Homo sapiens: one gene and its partner. The protein of the gene in region 2 interacts with the protein of the main gene of each other region in a biochemical or structural test. Each region holds a gene or a part of one and is shown on either strand. Other genes may lie near its edges.

The links.
Region 1: the proteins of TMPO (region 2) and LMNB1 form a complex in vitro, tested with the Homo sapiens proteins (2 studies listed by BioGRID).

Annotation. Positions count from the first base shown.
Region 1 is NC_000005.10:126,779,968-126,787,425, forward strand, and holds part of LMNB1 (lamin-B1), read left to right. Parts: intron 1-7,340; exon of another isoform or gene 7,341-7,356; intron 7,357-7,458. UniProt on the Homo sapiens protein: Lamins are intermediate filament proteins that assemble into a filamentous meshwork, and which constitute the major components of the nuclear lamina, a fibrous layer on the nucleoplasmic side of the inner nuclear membrane.
Region 2 is NC_000012.12:98,510,362-98,518,589, reverse strand, and holds the start of TMPO (thymopoietin), read right to left. Parts: upstream 3,001-8,228; 5' UTR 2,723-3,000; coding exon 2,444-2,722; exon of another isoform or gene 2,364-2,443; intron 2,170-2,363; exon of another isoform or gene 2,073-2,169; intron 1-2,072. UniProt on the Homo sapiens protein: May help direct the assembly of the nuclear lamina and thereby help maintain the structural organization of the nuclear envelope. Possible receptor for attachment of lamin filaments to the inner nuclear membrane.

The sequences.
Region 1 (7,458 bases), on a different chromosome or scaffold from region 2:
ATTGCAGTGAGCTGAGATTGCGCCATTGCACCCCAGCCTGGCGACAGAGTGAGACCCCATCTCAAAAAAGAAAAAAAATCCGGGCGTGGTGGCGGGCGTCTGTAATCCCAGCTACTGGGGAGGCTGAGGCAGGAGAATCGCTTGATATCCAGGAGGCAGAGGCTGCAGTGAGCCAGATGGTCCACTGCACTCCAGCCTGGGTGACAGAGTGAGACTCCGTCTAAAAAAAAAAATTAACACAGATCAAATATCTGTTGCGTACCAGTCACCGTTCTATGTTAGAGGATATGAAGATTTTTTTAAAAAAATGAATTACTGTTCTTTGTTGCTGAGAGTGTAGTGGGGGAGCTATATCCCAGCAAGTAAAGAAAGATTGTCTTTTGTCTGATGTGAAGCATTTTGATGCTGGCGCTTTTGTAATCTTTCCAGGAGTTAGCCACAGGAGGTTTTTCACACAGTAACAAGGCTGCCACCTGGCTGACAGTAGTTGTAAATGTATCGATTCTAAAATGCATGCTGGTTTCAGCGGGGTTAAAAAATGAGAATAATGTGTATTAGAATCAATGAAATAATGCATGTGATACAATTTAGGTAATAGCAGATGCTAAGGGAATAAAAATAAAGCGGAGTGAAGGGTTAGTGTGATTAAGGAAGGCCTGTCTGAGGAGTTGACAGTACCTATTCTCTGAGGGTTAGTAGTGTTCTGGGATTATATTTTTCTTAAGTCTGTGCTACTGTATGTATATTCCTATTGCCAGGATTAGATGACTCTTCTTTTCCCCCCAACATACCATCATTTGCTCAAAACATGCCACATTTTAGTTTGCTCCTTATTTGAATTAGGACTTTTTTTATATGGATTTATTCCTCAATAGCTTTTCATTTTTCTTGTTAAGAAAAATTTGCCCTCAGTGTGTTTGCAGACTTTTTGAAGATATTTAATCATAATATCTATCACATGAATCTGCTTTCTTCCCTAGAGTTCTCTTTGCTTAAGGTAGGCTGTGTACTGATGTCCTGTAACTTATTAAAGACAGCTTCCTGGCCAGGCACGGTGGCTCACACCTGTAAAGCACTTTGAGAGGCCTAGGCAGGTGGATCACCTGAAGTCAGGAGTTCAAGACTAGCCTGTCCAACATGGCGAGACCCCGTCTCTACTAAAAATACACAAATTAGCCGCGTGTGGTAGTGGACGCCTGCAATCCCAGTTACTGTGGAGGCTGAGGCAGGAGGCATTGCTTGAACCGGGGAGGCGGAGGTTGCAGTGAGCTGAGATCACACCACCGCACTCCATCCTGGGTGTATTTTCCTTTTCCTTGGTTTCTTCATATTTTGTTGAAGAACATCCTTAAGTAATTTATTCAGAAAGGATGGCAGGAGGTAAACTTTCTGAGTCCTGTATGTCTGAAAATAGCTTTGGGCTAGGTATAGAATACTAGGTTAACATTTTTCCAGAACTTGGAAAGTATTATTTTGCCCTATTGTCTTCTGGCATCTAGGGTTGTTAATGTCTTTCTTTTTTTTTTGAGACGGAGCTTGGCTCACTGCAACCTCCGCCTCCCAGGTTCAAGCGATGCTCTTGACCCAGCCTCCCAAGTAGCTGGGATTACAGGTGTGCACCACCACACCCGGCTAATTTTGTATTTTTAGTAGAGACGGGGTTTCACCGTGTTGGCCAGGCTGGTCTCCAACTCCTGACCTCAGGTGATCCACCCACCTCGGCCTCCCAAGGTGCTGGGATTATAGGCGTGAGCCACCATGCCTGGCCTATATTTAATTTTTTATTTGGAACTAGAGTGTTTGTAATTAAGTATAATCATCATTTAGGTAGATTTAGATTAAGAAAACAGCTTTGAGAGAATTATAGATTCCAGGTTACTTAGTTTCTTTTTGGTTCCTCAGCAAACAAGATACCTTAGAGGCAGAGCATGGAAATGCTTGGTCTAAAGAGAATTTGGCAACAGTTTCCATGCAGGTGGTGTCTGAATCCATAGAAAACAGACCTCATATGTAAGGTACAGTTACTTTGATTCAGTCCAAGACTGATTATATTTTGCTGAAAGCTTTTTTGAGAGAACAGTTTCCAAAAATGATGATGAATGCCATCACTCAACACTTTAAACAAAAAGTACAGAGAAATTGACTTGTTTCAGATTTTCACTGTTAACTATACGGGAAAACTAGATATAACAGAAAGTTAAGTGTTTACATCAGTCTTCAATAACTGATTTTGTGGATTCAGACATTTATTTTCCTTCAGTGATACAGGTCCCGTATCTTTTCTGTAAAACCCTGGGGGCCAGATGTGCTTTGGAAGTTAAAGCAATTCCAATTTAAGACGGTAATATGATGCACATACTGGATATGACACCCCCAGTGGGGTTTATAGATAGAGTTAGGGTAGATAGAGTTAGCACTCTATCATGAAACATTTCTGAGGGAAAGATATTGTCATGGCAAGTGGAGAAAGACAGATTGAAAATAGACCTGGTTTCAGGTCAGGTTTTGCCACTAAATGTGTTAATAAAAATTTTAGGTTTTCAAACTCTGGAAGTATAGATAAAAGATGGTGAATTTTTGTTTTTATTTATTTATTTTTTGACACAGAGTCTCGCTCTTTTGCCCAGGCTGGAGTGCAGTGACACAATCTCAGCTCACTGCAACCTCTGCCTCCTGGGTTCAAGCAATTCTTCTGCCTCAGCCTCCCAAGTAGCTGGGATTACAGGCACCCGCCACCACGCCCAGGTAATTTTTATATTTTTAGTAGAGACCAGGTTTCACCATGTTGGCCAGGATGGTCTTGATCTCTTGACCTCGTGATCTGCCCGCCTCTGCCTCCCAAAGTGCTGGGATTACAGGCGTGAGCCACTGTGCCTGGTCAAAAACATGCTAATCTTCTTTAGGAGTGTTTTCTTTGTACATAGGATGATTAATTGAAAAACAAAAACCTTTGGCTGGGCGTGGTGGCTCACGCCTGTAATCCTAGCACTTTGGGAGGCTGAGGTGGGAGGGTCATGAGGTCAGGAGTTCGAGACCAGCCTGACCAACACTGTGAAACCCCATCTCCATAAAAATACAAAAATCAGCCGGGCGTGGTGGTGCACGCCTGTAATCCCAGCTACTTTGGGAGGCTGAGGCAGGAGAATCTCTTGAACCCAGCAGGTGGAGGTTGTAGTGAGCCAAGATCGTACCACTGCACTCCAGCTTGGGCGACAGAGCGAGACTCTGTCTCAAAAACAAAAACAAACAAACAAAAAAACCACAAAAAACAAACCTTCATCATCCTGTGTATTACTATATCTTTTTTTAATGTACTGATTTTGCCCTATTTGAAGCAGATTGACAGTATACATCTTGGCCTTAATATAAGAGTTATCAAACTTTTATATTTTTATAACTTAAAATATAAGAGTTATAAAACTAGTTTTCTTTATAAGAGTTATAAAACTAGTTAAACTGCTTTTCATAGTTCTTTTATAACAGAGTTATGTTAAATGTTACTTTAATTTTCAAGGGAAGACTTGGAAGGACCAAACCCCTAAAAATGATTTAAAAGTCTAGGAAGCAGGTCCCAAGTAATTAAACTGTCATGACATTTCCTTCCCATGCTTTCAAAAGATGTTTGATAAAGCAAGATCTTTTGGAGTTGTTTATTTAACTTAGGGGATGAGACTAGGTAATATTTTGCATACCCAGATTCAAGGAAGTAAACAGGCAGAATGAAAGATAAAGCACTATTAAAATATGGTGGGTCTTTTCTTTTTTGTGTCTTTACACAGTTGCTGGTTATATTTATTCTTTCGTTTGTATAGATGGTGTCACCTCTGATATGTCTGAGTTAGAAATCTTCAGACTTTTTTTTTATGCCATTAGTGTAAGTCTCTTTCATGTACAAATGTTGAGAATGAGCCTCAGGTATCAGTTGAGTAATGGGACCCTGTATAGGTCCCATTATTTTTAGGATCAGGGAAGTTTTTAAAATCAGTTTTAAACCCTTTTTACAGTGTACCTCTTTGATAAGGAGATTGTGCTTTGGCTGTCATTTGATTTTTTTTTTTTTTTTTTTTTTTTTTTGAGACAGAGTTTTGCTCTCGTTGCCCAGGCTGGAGTACAGTGGTGCGATCTCAGCTCACTGCAACCTCCGCCTCCCGGGTTCAAGCAATTCTCCTGCCTCAGCCTCCCAAGTAGCTGGGATTACAGGCATGCGCCACTACACCCGGCTGATTTTGTATTTTTTTTTTAATAGACTTGGGGTTTTTCCATGTTGGTCAGGCTGGTCTGGAATTCCCAACCTTGGATGATCCGCCCGCCTTGGCCTCCCAAAGTGCGGGGATTACAGGCGTGAGCCACCGCACCTGGCCGGCTGTCATTTGAATTTTTATTATTTTATTTTATTTTATTTTTTTGAGGCAGGGTCTCGCTGTGTCGCCCAGGCTGGAGTGCAGTGGTGCGATCTCGGCTCACTGCAACCTCCGCCCCTCCAGGTTTAAGCAATTCTCTGCCTCAGCCTCCGGAGTAGCTGGGATTACAGGCACGTGCCACCACGCCCGGCTAATTTTTTGTATTTTTAGTAGAGATGGGGTTTCACCATCTTGCCCAGGCTGGTCTTGAGCTCCTGACCTCGTGATCCACCCGCCTCGGCCTCCCAAAGTGCTGGGATTACAGGCGTGAGCCACCGTGCCTGGCTTGAATTTTTTTTTTTTTTTGAGACGGAGTTTTGCTCTGTCGCCCAGGCTGGAGTGCAGTGGCGCCATCTCGGCTCACTGCAAGCTCCACCTCCCGGGTTCACGCCATTCTCCTGCCTCACTCAGCCTCCTGAGTAACTGGAACTACAGGCGCCCTCCACCACGCCGGGCTAATTTTTTTTTATATTTTTAGTAGAGGCTGGGTTTCACCGTGTTAGCCGGGATGGGCTCGATCTCCTGACCTCGTGATCCGCCCGCCTCAGCCTCCCAAAGTGCTGGGATTACAGGCGTAAGCCACTGCCCTCCGCCCGAATTTTTAAAAATTAATTTTATTATTATTATTTTTGAGACGGAGTCTTGCTGTGTCACCAGGCTGGAGTGCAGTGGCACAACCTTGGCTCACTGCAATCTCTGCCTCCCGGGTTCAAGTGATTCTGCCGCCTCAGCCTCCCAAATATCTGGGATTACAGGCACCCGCCACCATGCCCGGCTAATTTTTTTTTTTTTTAATTTCTAGTAGAAACGGGGTTTCACCATGTCGGCCAGGATCATCTCGATCTCCTGACCTCGTGATCCGCCCGCCTTGGCCTCCCAAAGTGCTGGGATTACAGGTGTGAGCCACGGTGCCCTGCCTAAAAATTAATTTTTTTTTTTTTTAATAACTGAGTCTTGCTCTGTCGCCAGGCTGGAGTGCAGTGGCACGATCTCAGCTCACTACAGCCTCTGCCTCCCGTGTTCAAGCAATTCTCCTGCCTCAGCCTCCTGATTAGCTGGGACTACAGGCACACGCCACCACGTCGGCTAATTTTTTTTTTCTTTTTCTTTTTCTTTTTTTTTTTTTGTATTTTAGTAGAGACGAGGTTTCACCAGGTTGCCCAGGCTTGTCTTGAACTCCTGAGCTCAGGCAATATCTGCCTGCCTCAGCCTCCCAAAGTGCTAGGATTACAGGTGTGAGCCACGGTGCCAGGCCAAAAATTAAATTTTTTAAACAGCAAATGTATATTCATTATAGAAAAGGAGAAAACACAAACACCAAGAAGAAAATTCTTGGTTGGGCCTTAGGTTGGGCCCAACCCTTAGGTTGGGACCAGCGGCTCATGCCTGCAATCCCAGCACTTTTGGAGGCCGAGGTGGGCGGATCACCTGAGGTCAGCAGTTCGAGACCAGCCTGGCCAACATGGCAAAACCCTGTATCTACTAAAAATACAAAAATTAGCCGGGCATGGTGGTGGGCACCTGTAATTCTAGCTACTTAGGAGGCTGAGGCAGGAGAACTGCTTGAACCTGGGAGGCAGAGGTTGCAGTGAGCCGAGATCGTGCCACTGCACTCCAGCCTGAGTGACAAAGCAAGACTCCCTTTGGGGGGTGGGGGAAAAGATGCAGGAAAAAAAAAAGCTGACATTTATTTTGTGCCAATTCTGTTTGCCAGGCATTACAGTAGATGCTTTACAGACATTATCTTTTTTTTTTTTTTTTTTTTGATGCAGAGTCTGGCTCTGTCGCCCAGGCTGGAGTCCTGGAGTGCAGTGGCACGATCTCGGTTCACTGCAGGCTCCATCTCTTGAGTTCACGCCATTCTCCTGCCTCAGCCTCCCAAGTAGCTGGGACTACAGGTGCCCGCCACTACGCCCGGCTAATTTTTTGTATTTTTTAGTAGAGACGGGGTTTCACTGTTAGCCAGGATGGTCTCGATCTCCTGACCTCGTGATCCTCCTGCCTTGGCCTCCCAGAGTGCTGGGATTACAGGCGTGAGCCACCGTTCCCGGCCAGACATTATCTTTTAAGCTCATGATAACTGCTGATGAGTAAGGAAACTTCAGGCTCAGAGAGTTTAAGTATTTTGCCTGGTATTACTTAGCAAGTAATGAAAGCTAGAAAGGATGGTAGCCTGACTTCTAGCATTGTGATAGGGTGTTCACATACATAACCTTATTTCATCCATACAACAGTGTTCTACAGGTATTACTCTGGTTTACCGACATGTAGCAGGCTCACAGAGCATCATTATCTGTGGTTGGTACTTGAAGTCTCAGATAGGATAGTTGATTTTCAGATCCCTTTGGGTGCTACTTTTGGAAATGCTACTAGTTGCATGTTTTTCACGTTGATAGTTTGTAGCCTTCAAGGGAGGTAATTTTGGATTTGTCAGAAGGGTAGTGGTCAGTAGTTGAAACAGCTGTTTGAAATACTGAGGGCTTCATTTGCTAAAGAAAGGTGAAGATGAATTACTGAAAGAGATCGCTTTTATCTTTTTTCTCTTCTTAAAAAGCTACTTTCCAACTTTATTCCATGCCTTAATAATTTAAAAGAAATTAAAACCTCTAAATAAATCTTTAATACTCATGACAGGGTGTTCTTTCATTCTTTATTCAAGACACATTTTTGTGGAACAGGTACTATATGCCAGGTCTTGAACCAGATGCTGGGAATAGAGAAATGGGATACTCAGTCCCCATTATCAAGTTACTTACAGTCTAGTGGGGAAGACAGAAAACCAACACTACAGGATTGTGATACTGTAAGTGCAGTATACTAATAAAATATATTAAGTGCTGTGATGCCAGTATCCAGGTGTTGCTGTGGAGAAACAAGGACCGCTACCTAAGGCAGGCTAGGAGCCGTGTGAAATTTTGAAAGACATCCCAGGGGAATCTGAGCTAAGTGCAGGGAGGTAAGTAGGGATTTGCTTCTAAATGGAAAATGGAGAGTGAGTTGTCCTGAATGTCAAATAATTTATATAACTGGAGCCATATATATGTGTATGTGTGTGTAT
Region 2 (8,228 bases):
TCATCCTCAAAATAAATAGGAACCAAGGCTGAGGCAGGATTGCTTGAGGCCAAGAGTTCTAGACCAGCCTGGACAACACAGAAAGCCTGTGTACCAAAAAAAAAAAAAAAAAAAAAAAAGATTAGAAAATTAGCCGGGTGTAGCGGTGCATGCCCCGTTGCCCTTGCTACTCAGGGAAGCTGAGGCAGGAGGCTCTCGTGAGCCAAAGAGTTTGAGGCTGCAGTAAGCTATGATCACATCCCTGCACTCCGGCCTGGGCAACAAAGCGAGATCCCGCCTAAAAATAATAACCAGTAATTCTATTATAAACATACAACCAAAAACTTCACGGTTTAATACTTTTGCACAGAGGACCAATGAAGGGTTCTATAGAAAATTAGGTTTTTTATAAAGTGTGCTGATTTAAATATTATTTTCAAACAACTTTTTTTTTTTTTTTTTTTTGAGACGAAGTCTCGCTCTTGTCCCCCAGGCTGGAGTGCGATGGCGCGATCTCGGCTCACTGCAACCTCCGCCTCCCGGGTTCAAGCGATTCTCCTGCCTCGGCCGCCGCCACCAGGCACGGCTAATTTTTGTATTTTTTTTCTTTAGTAGAAACGGGGTTTCACCATATGGGCCAGGCTGGTCTAGAACTCCTGACCTCAGGTGATCCACCCGCCTGGGCCTCCCAAAGTGCGGGGCTTACAGGCGTGAGCCACCGCGCCCGGCCTCAACCAACTCTACTTAAAGAGTTTAAATACTACCTTCTTTTTCAGAGCAGGGAAACATAACGGGTAAGCGGGTACGCTTTTATTTCAAAAGTAAATTTGTTTATTAAGAAATTAAAGAAGCTTTCCGCAAAACAAGATGTTTAAACAATAAGGTGTGATTGGTCTTTTATTTATTGTACAAATATTTGGCACTACTATGTGCCAGACACCGGACTGAAGACGTTTGGTAAAACTTTCAACTTCTCTGAAGCCGAGAATAAGATTTTCAATTAAATTTACATGTGTCTATTACATTTGTCTTTCATTTCTGCCTGAGTAGCCGGGAAAACACATTAGACAGGTTCCTTAAAAACTAAAGTAAAATTTGAAGGAAGGAATAATTTCGGTTTAAACTAGTGATCATTCCCAACAACTCCAAACACCACATTCACTGTCTCTTACAAGGCATTTTATGTTACACCAATTACTAGTTTTAGCTTCATCCTATTACGATTTGAAGCCTGGTAACTCGGCAGGCATAAGCAAACCCACAAAAAGCATATTAAAATCCACAGGTAAAAAAGCAAACTATTCTGAAACAAAACATGCTTTGCTGGAGCCGATTTGAGATTTAACCAGGATCAGACATTCCAAATTGCAATACTGATGCACCAGAATGTCATGAAATAAATTTTTCCTGAATCCTAAGTCTTTCGTTTCCTCAAGCAAAATTTACCAATATGTGGGGAAAACGCAATCCAAACTGCAATTTTCAAATATTTGTTTGCAGGGCCGGGCCCGGTGGCTCACGCCTGTTATCCCAGCACTTTGTGAGGCCGAGGCGGGAGGACCACCTGAGGTCAGGAGTTCGAGACCAGCCTGACCAACTTGGAGAAACCCCGTCTCTACTAAAAAATACACAAATCAGCCGGGCGTGGCGGCGCATGCCTGTAATCCCAGCTACTCGGGAGGCTGAGGCAGGAGAATCGCTTGAACCCGGGAGGTGGAGGTTGCGGTGAGCCGAGATCTCGCCATTGCACTCCAGCCTGGGCAACAAGTGCGACACTCCATCTAAAAAAATAAATAAATAAAAACTAAAAAATTATAATAGGCGCCTAAAAATATAGTTTAAAATGCTCCTTTTAATTCGGCATGAACCTGTTCCGCCAAAAGATGGCCTGTTGCTGGGAAAAATTAAAACAAACTAGAAAACATAAACGGTTCAAAAAGCCCTCCACACGCAAAAGTATAAAAAGGCGGGAATTTCCTCATTTCAAATTTTGGTTAGAAATTAGAGTGTCATCAGTTGCCCTCCAGGGAGCGCTCTGAGACTCTGCTGCGAGTCATTTCAGTTAATAAAGCGGGAAAACGCTCGAACTTAACCTATAGCATTTTGGGGCCACCCCTCCAGAGCTTTCGAAAGGGCACGGAAGTCCCCGTCTAAACGCCCGCTGCAGGCGGCTGGTGGTCCAGGGAAGCGGCGTCGACTGCGTGCAAAACAACCGCCGCCAACGCAACTCCACACCTCCCAGACCCACACGTCAAAGAACGCGAACCCCGCGGCCCCAACTTCTGGCCTCTCCGCTCCGGCGCCTGCAGCCCCGCGGGGAAGGGGCGACGCGAGGGGGCGCAGGGACAGCCCCGCACCTGGGAGGCCCGAGGGGGCGCCCGGGAGGGAGGGGCTGCAAACGGCGGCGAGCGCGCGCGGCAACCGCCAAACGCCCGCCTTTGTAGCCCCGGCCCCGCGTCCTTACCCTGCCGACGGCTGCTCGGCTCCGGCCCGCGGCGGCGGCCCCAGAGCCGAGGACCGGGGTGGGCTCGCGCTCTTCGTCACTGGAGAAGTCCGGGGGCCCCTTGCTGTTGGTGCCGGCGGGGAGCGGCGGCCGGTTGCGAGCCGTGAGGTGCTGCAGGTAGAGCTGGACGTACACGTCTTTGCGCTGCTCCCCGGCCGGCAGCGTCACATTGTTGGCGACCAACTCACTCTTCAACTTGTCTTTTGTCAGGACCGAGGGGTCTTCCAGGAACTCCGGCATCTCGGGGATCTGCGAAGCCCCCTCCCCACAGCCTTTGCCGCCGCCGCTCACGCCGGCGCGCTTGCTCCTGGCCGGGGACCGCGCTGCCGCCTCCGAGCCTCACGGCTCCTGCCCGGGAAGAGCGCTGCGGAGCGGAACAAAAACTCGCGGACACAAAGCCAAGCCAGACCCGGACACAAAAGACCCCAGAGCCGAACTACGAACCAACTGCGGCCAAGCTGGAAGCTCGCACCAACCCCAGCCCACACACTACAGGCAGGAGGCGAGCAGCCTGCTTCGCCCACGCCCCAAGAACGCGCGCCGCCATTGGCGGGCGACGGGAGGAAGCGCGGCGGTGATTGGCGAGACGGCTCGCGCGGGTTCCATTAGCCGCCGCGCTGAGCGAGAGGAGGTAGAAACGCAGTTTAAAAGGCGCTGGGGCGGGAGCCGAGGCTCCCGGCCCGCTTCTGTTTTCGTTTTCTCCACCCTTCCCCTTAGACGCCGATAAGGGACAGGTCGTACTGCTTTTGTGCGCCGTTTCCTCTCCCTCCCCCAGCTTGAGAAGCAGCTTTCGTCTCTGGGGTCGATCGCCTACGAACGCGCCGAATTCCACGCCAGTGTGAGGACCCTTGGCTGGGCCTTTCTTCCTCCCGGGACACTGAAGCTCCAAGAGTAGCCGCAGCCTTGCCTTCCCCAAACGCTAGCCCTGAAGGGGAAGAAAAGAAGCGAGGCTTGTCTGCAGGCACTCATATTCCTTGATTTGATTTACTTTGGGAGGGGGAGGGCGGGGAGTTACCCCTCTCCTCGCGAACGCTTCTTTTGTTCCAGAAACCCAGGGGAAGCCAGACCTCTACAATCGGGCACTTAAATTACCCTTGAATTTGTGACAAAAGTGTACTATACCATTCACTTCTTAGTGTCATAGTTGGGGCATGTCTAAATTGTTTAATTTGAACAGTGCGTTCAGACGCAAGACAAATTCGCGCTTGCATTTTTGTTGAAACCGTCTCTGGCTTTGGATCCCACCACCCGCAAGAATCCTAAACCTAACGTTTGATAACAAAACGAAGGAGAACCCTTGGGAACCCCCTCAATGGTCAATTTAAAATAACAGATGGTGCATAATCCTAAAGGAAGACTAGTGACCTATAATTAGGCCTAGAACCCTAATCAAACCCGTATTACCGATCCAAATTAAAACCTGGTAGAATCTAATACATTGACTGCAATTAAAATGTTTGCCTGGAAATTAGTATCACTGATGACAAATATTTGTATTTCTGATGAATATGTATGTTTAAAGATGCTTTCTTTCTAGAAAGGAAAGGAGACCTTGGATGTAGGGTGTGTTAATCATTTCCCCAGAATCTGAGCTCCAAACTATGTTTTAGAAACTGGTTAAATTTTTTTTAAATGTTTGCCTGCTTTCTACATTGCTAGGTTAGAATACATTTAAAACAAACGCCTTCACTAAAAATGTTTCCTATGATTTAAGCGACTTACTTTTATTCAAATTGCGATATTATTTCTTTTAGTGATAATTATTTTCCTAGAGGTAACTAATTCCTTTATAAAAATCTCAGTATTCACATACATTTAAGCAATGGTATTAAGCTCAATAATGCAAATTAAAAATCAGGTTTTAATTAGCAAGTTGTTAGGTAGGTTTTTATGATCCCTTGTAAAAGTTGCTTGGTTTTTTGTCCTCACAGCTTCCCTGGACACATAGGCAAATGTTTTTATCTTCAGAAGGGGAACTGAGCTGAGAGGCAAAGGACCATGACTTTGCAATGACTGGTAACCCAGTACGTATAATGCAAGAACTGCATTCTAGATACGCCTGAAATTAATGTTTCCTGGGCAAAAACATTTTCATTATCTTTTTTTTAATCCCTGGACATTAGCTACAGGTGGTTACTTGCAGATTTACTGCTGTAGAGCTCCAAAATTGAGATTACACTTTTCAGATTCTGCGTACCCTAAGGCTAAGAGGTTGGGCTATTGAGTTTGGGTGGTCTCTTTGGTCCTGATTGCTACTTCCAAACCATTTCTGCTCTTTTCTGCTTCAAAAATATTTGAAGTTCATATCTTCTGGCTAAATCACTTTCTACTCTCCTTCCTGCCATCATCCACGAGCCTCCTGGTCACTTTCCAGAAATTATAGAGCTGCTTGCCGTAGGTTTTCCTCACCATCCCTCTTGTCTACATTCTATCTGAATTCAGCATGCTTGTAGGTGACCCATGCAACACCAACACTTGGCCTCTTAGACCTCTGACCTCTTCATCTCCAACAATTTGTTCCTCTCTTGCGTCTTAACCACTTCGGTATCAGTCAGATTCTGAACCTTGTCATCAGTTGAAATCTCAGTTTCAAGCTTCCCAATTGTCAATCACTAGCCTTTTTTTCCCAGCTAATTTATGGTACTCTCACTTACCTAATTAAGACCTCCACGCTATTAACCCCAACACTTAAAAAAACTCAACTCTTCTGCTTCTGCCATCATGTAATAATTTTGCAACTCACCTGACTTAAATTCCCTGATCAGTCCTTTTCATCACTCTTTTACAAACATTTTCAACTCTCTGATCTCAATGTCTCCTTTTTTGCTTGAAAGAATCTCAGCCTTGCTTGGACTAAACCATGCTCCAGCTGAACTTTCTCATTGCTTACATCCAAACAGCAAAAGCTGCTGGAGAAAAGTCAGTCATATAACAAGCTAACTGGTTTTAATTCATGACCTCAGTCCTCTCAGGAGCACTCAACACTGGCTGGCAATGCTATTCCAGTCTCTGGGTTAACCATTCATACGTTCACATCTCCTCAAATTTCACATCCTTTTTCCCTACCTCTCATTTTTAGCTGGTGACCTTGCCTCAACTTCAAAAAATAAAAACCACCTATGAGGAATGCTTCAACGTCAGACTTTCCAATTTGCATTCATTTTCTCTTGCATTTTTCTTTTCAGTGAAAGATGTGTCCTGTCAGAAGGAAATTCCACCACTTGTACTCTGGCTCTCACCCTTCTCAAGGAATTGACTCTTTCCATCATCTCCTTAATACTTGTTTCAACATAAAAGATAATTTTTAAAATATTTGATCAATGTGACACAAAAAACACAAAGGCTGAGCACTGTGGCTCACGCCTGTAATCCCAACACTTTGGGAGGCTGAGACAGGCGGATCCCTTGAGCTTAGGAGTTCAAGACTAGCCTGGGCAAAACAGTAAAACCCCCTCTCTACAAAAAAATACAAAATTTAGCCATGGTGCCCACCTGTAGTTCTAGCTACTAGGGAGACTGAGGTGGGAGGATCACTTGAGCCTGGGAGGTTGAGGCTGCAGTGAGCCATAATCCTGTCACTGCATTCCAGCCTGGGTGACAGAGTGAGACCCTGTCTCTAAAATCAATATGTGTAAGATGTAGATTGGTCCCTTCCAGAAAGGCGGGACAACTATTAATAAAAGTGGGGGTTGGGGGGCTCGGGGTGTTCCAGGTCATTGGTAGATAAAAGTAATTTTAATTCAGAAAATTTCACAGGGAAATGAGAGTTTTTAGAAGTCTTAATATTCTGACTGTGGTCAGAATGTCCAACAGAGACTAGGCTGGAGTGCAGTGACGTAGTCTCGGCTCACTGCAACCTCCGCCTCCCAGGTTCAAGCAATTCTCCTTGCCCCAGCCTCCAGAGTAGCTGGGACTACAGGCGCCTGCTAATACACTCATCTAATTTGTTTGTATTTTAGTAGAGACTGGGTTTCACCATGTTGACCAGGCTGGTCTTGAACTCCTGACCTCAGGTGATCCACCCGCCTCAGCCTCCCAAAGTTCTGGGATTACAGGCATGAGCCACTGTGCCTGGTGGATGCAAATTTTTTTTTTTTTTTTTTTGGAAATGGAGTCTCCCTCTGTTGCCGAGCCTGGAGTGCAGTAGCACAATCTCAGCCCACTGTAACCTCTGCCTCCCAGGTTCAAGCAATTCTTCTGCCTCAGCCTCCCAAGTAGCTGGGATTACAGGCGCCTGCTGCCACGCCCAGCTAATTTTTTTGTAATATAGTAGAGACAAGAGTTTCACCATGTTGACCAGGCTGGTCTCAAACTCCTGACCTCAGGCAATCCACCCGCCTCAGCCTCCCAAATTGCTGGGATTACAGGCATGAGCCACTGCGTCTGGCCTGATGCAATTTTTTTTTTTTTTAAATCAGAAAACTTTCCCATAACTTAAAAAAAAATCATCTGGAGGTGGGCCCGGTGGCTCACGCCTGTAATCCCAGCACTTTGGGAGGCTGAGGCAGGCAGATCACCTGAGGTCGGGAATTTGAGACCATGTGGAGAAACCCCGTCTCTACTAAAAATACAAAATTAGCCTGGCGTGGTGGCGCATGCCTGTAATCCAAGCTACACGGGAGGCTGAGGCAGGAGAATCACTTGAACCCGGGAGGCGGAGGTTGTGGTGAACCGAGATCGTGCAATTGCATTCCAGCCTGGGCAACACGAGCGAAACTCCATCTCAAAACAAACAAACAAACAAAAATCACCTGGATAACTGCCTCCATTCTTTTTTTGAAGTTCTTAATATTATTAACATACAGCTGGCTTTGTTTTTCATTATCCCATTTTGCGGAGGATTGGTTGTGAATTTAAGGGTGTCACCTCAAACAGGAGGGTAAGTTGCACTTTAAGTGATGTAAAATAGTAAGAAGCTAAAAACCTTAAAAAATGTTTAGTTCTCGGCCGGGCGTCGTGGCTCATGCCTGTAATTCCAGCACTTTGGGAGGCTGGGGTGGGCGGATCACTTGAAGTCATGAGTTCGAGCTCAGCCTGGCCAAGAAATTAAAAAATTAGCTGGGCCTTGTGGTGGGCGCCTGTAATCTCAGCTACTAGGGAGGCTGAGGTAGGAGAATCGCTTGAACCCGGGAGGCAGAGGTTGCAGTGAGCCGAGATCGTGCCACTGCACTCCAGCCTGGGCGACCGATCAAGACTCCATCTTAAAAAAAAATAATAAGAGGGGCCAGGAGCGGTGGCTCACACCGGTAATCCCAGCACTTGGGGAGGCCAAGGCGGGCAGATCACATCAGGAGTTCGAGACCAGCCTGACCAACATGGTGGAAGCCCCTCTCTACTGAAAATACAAAAGTTAGCCGTGCCTGGTGGCATGCGCCTGTAATCCCAGCTACTTGGGAGGCTGAGGTGGGAGAATCCCTTGAACCCGGGAGGCGGAGGTTGCAGTGAGCTGAGATGGCACCATTGCACTCCAGCCTGGGCAACAGAACGAGACTCGGTCTCTCAAAAAAAAAAAAAGTTTAGCTCCCTTAAGCCATTTCTGATAATTTATTCTAAAGATAAAATCAAATGTGGAATTCATTTATAAAGGTATTTATTGCTTCATTTATAATGGTGAAAAAAATAAAAAATCTCTATCTCCAATAGTAAGGAATTGGTTGTTTATGATATATCCATATGACAAAATAATGCACAGTAGTAAAAAATCATGTTTTGACATTTAAGAATATGAGGCTGGCTTGGTGGCTGT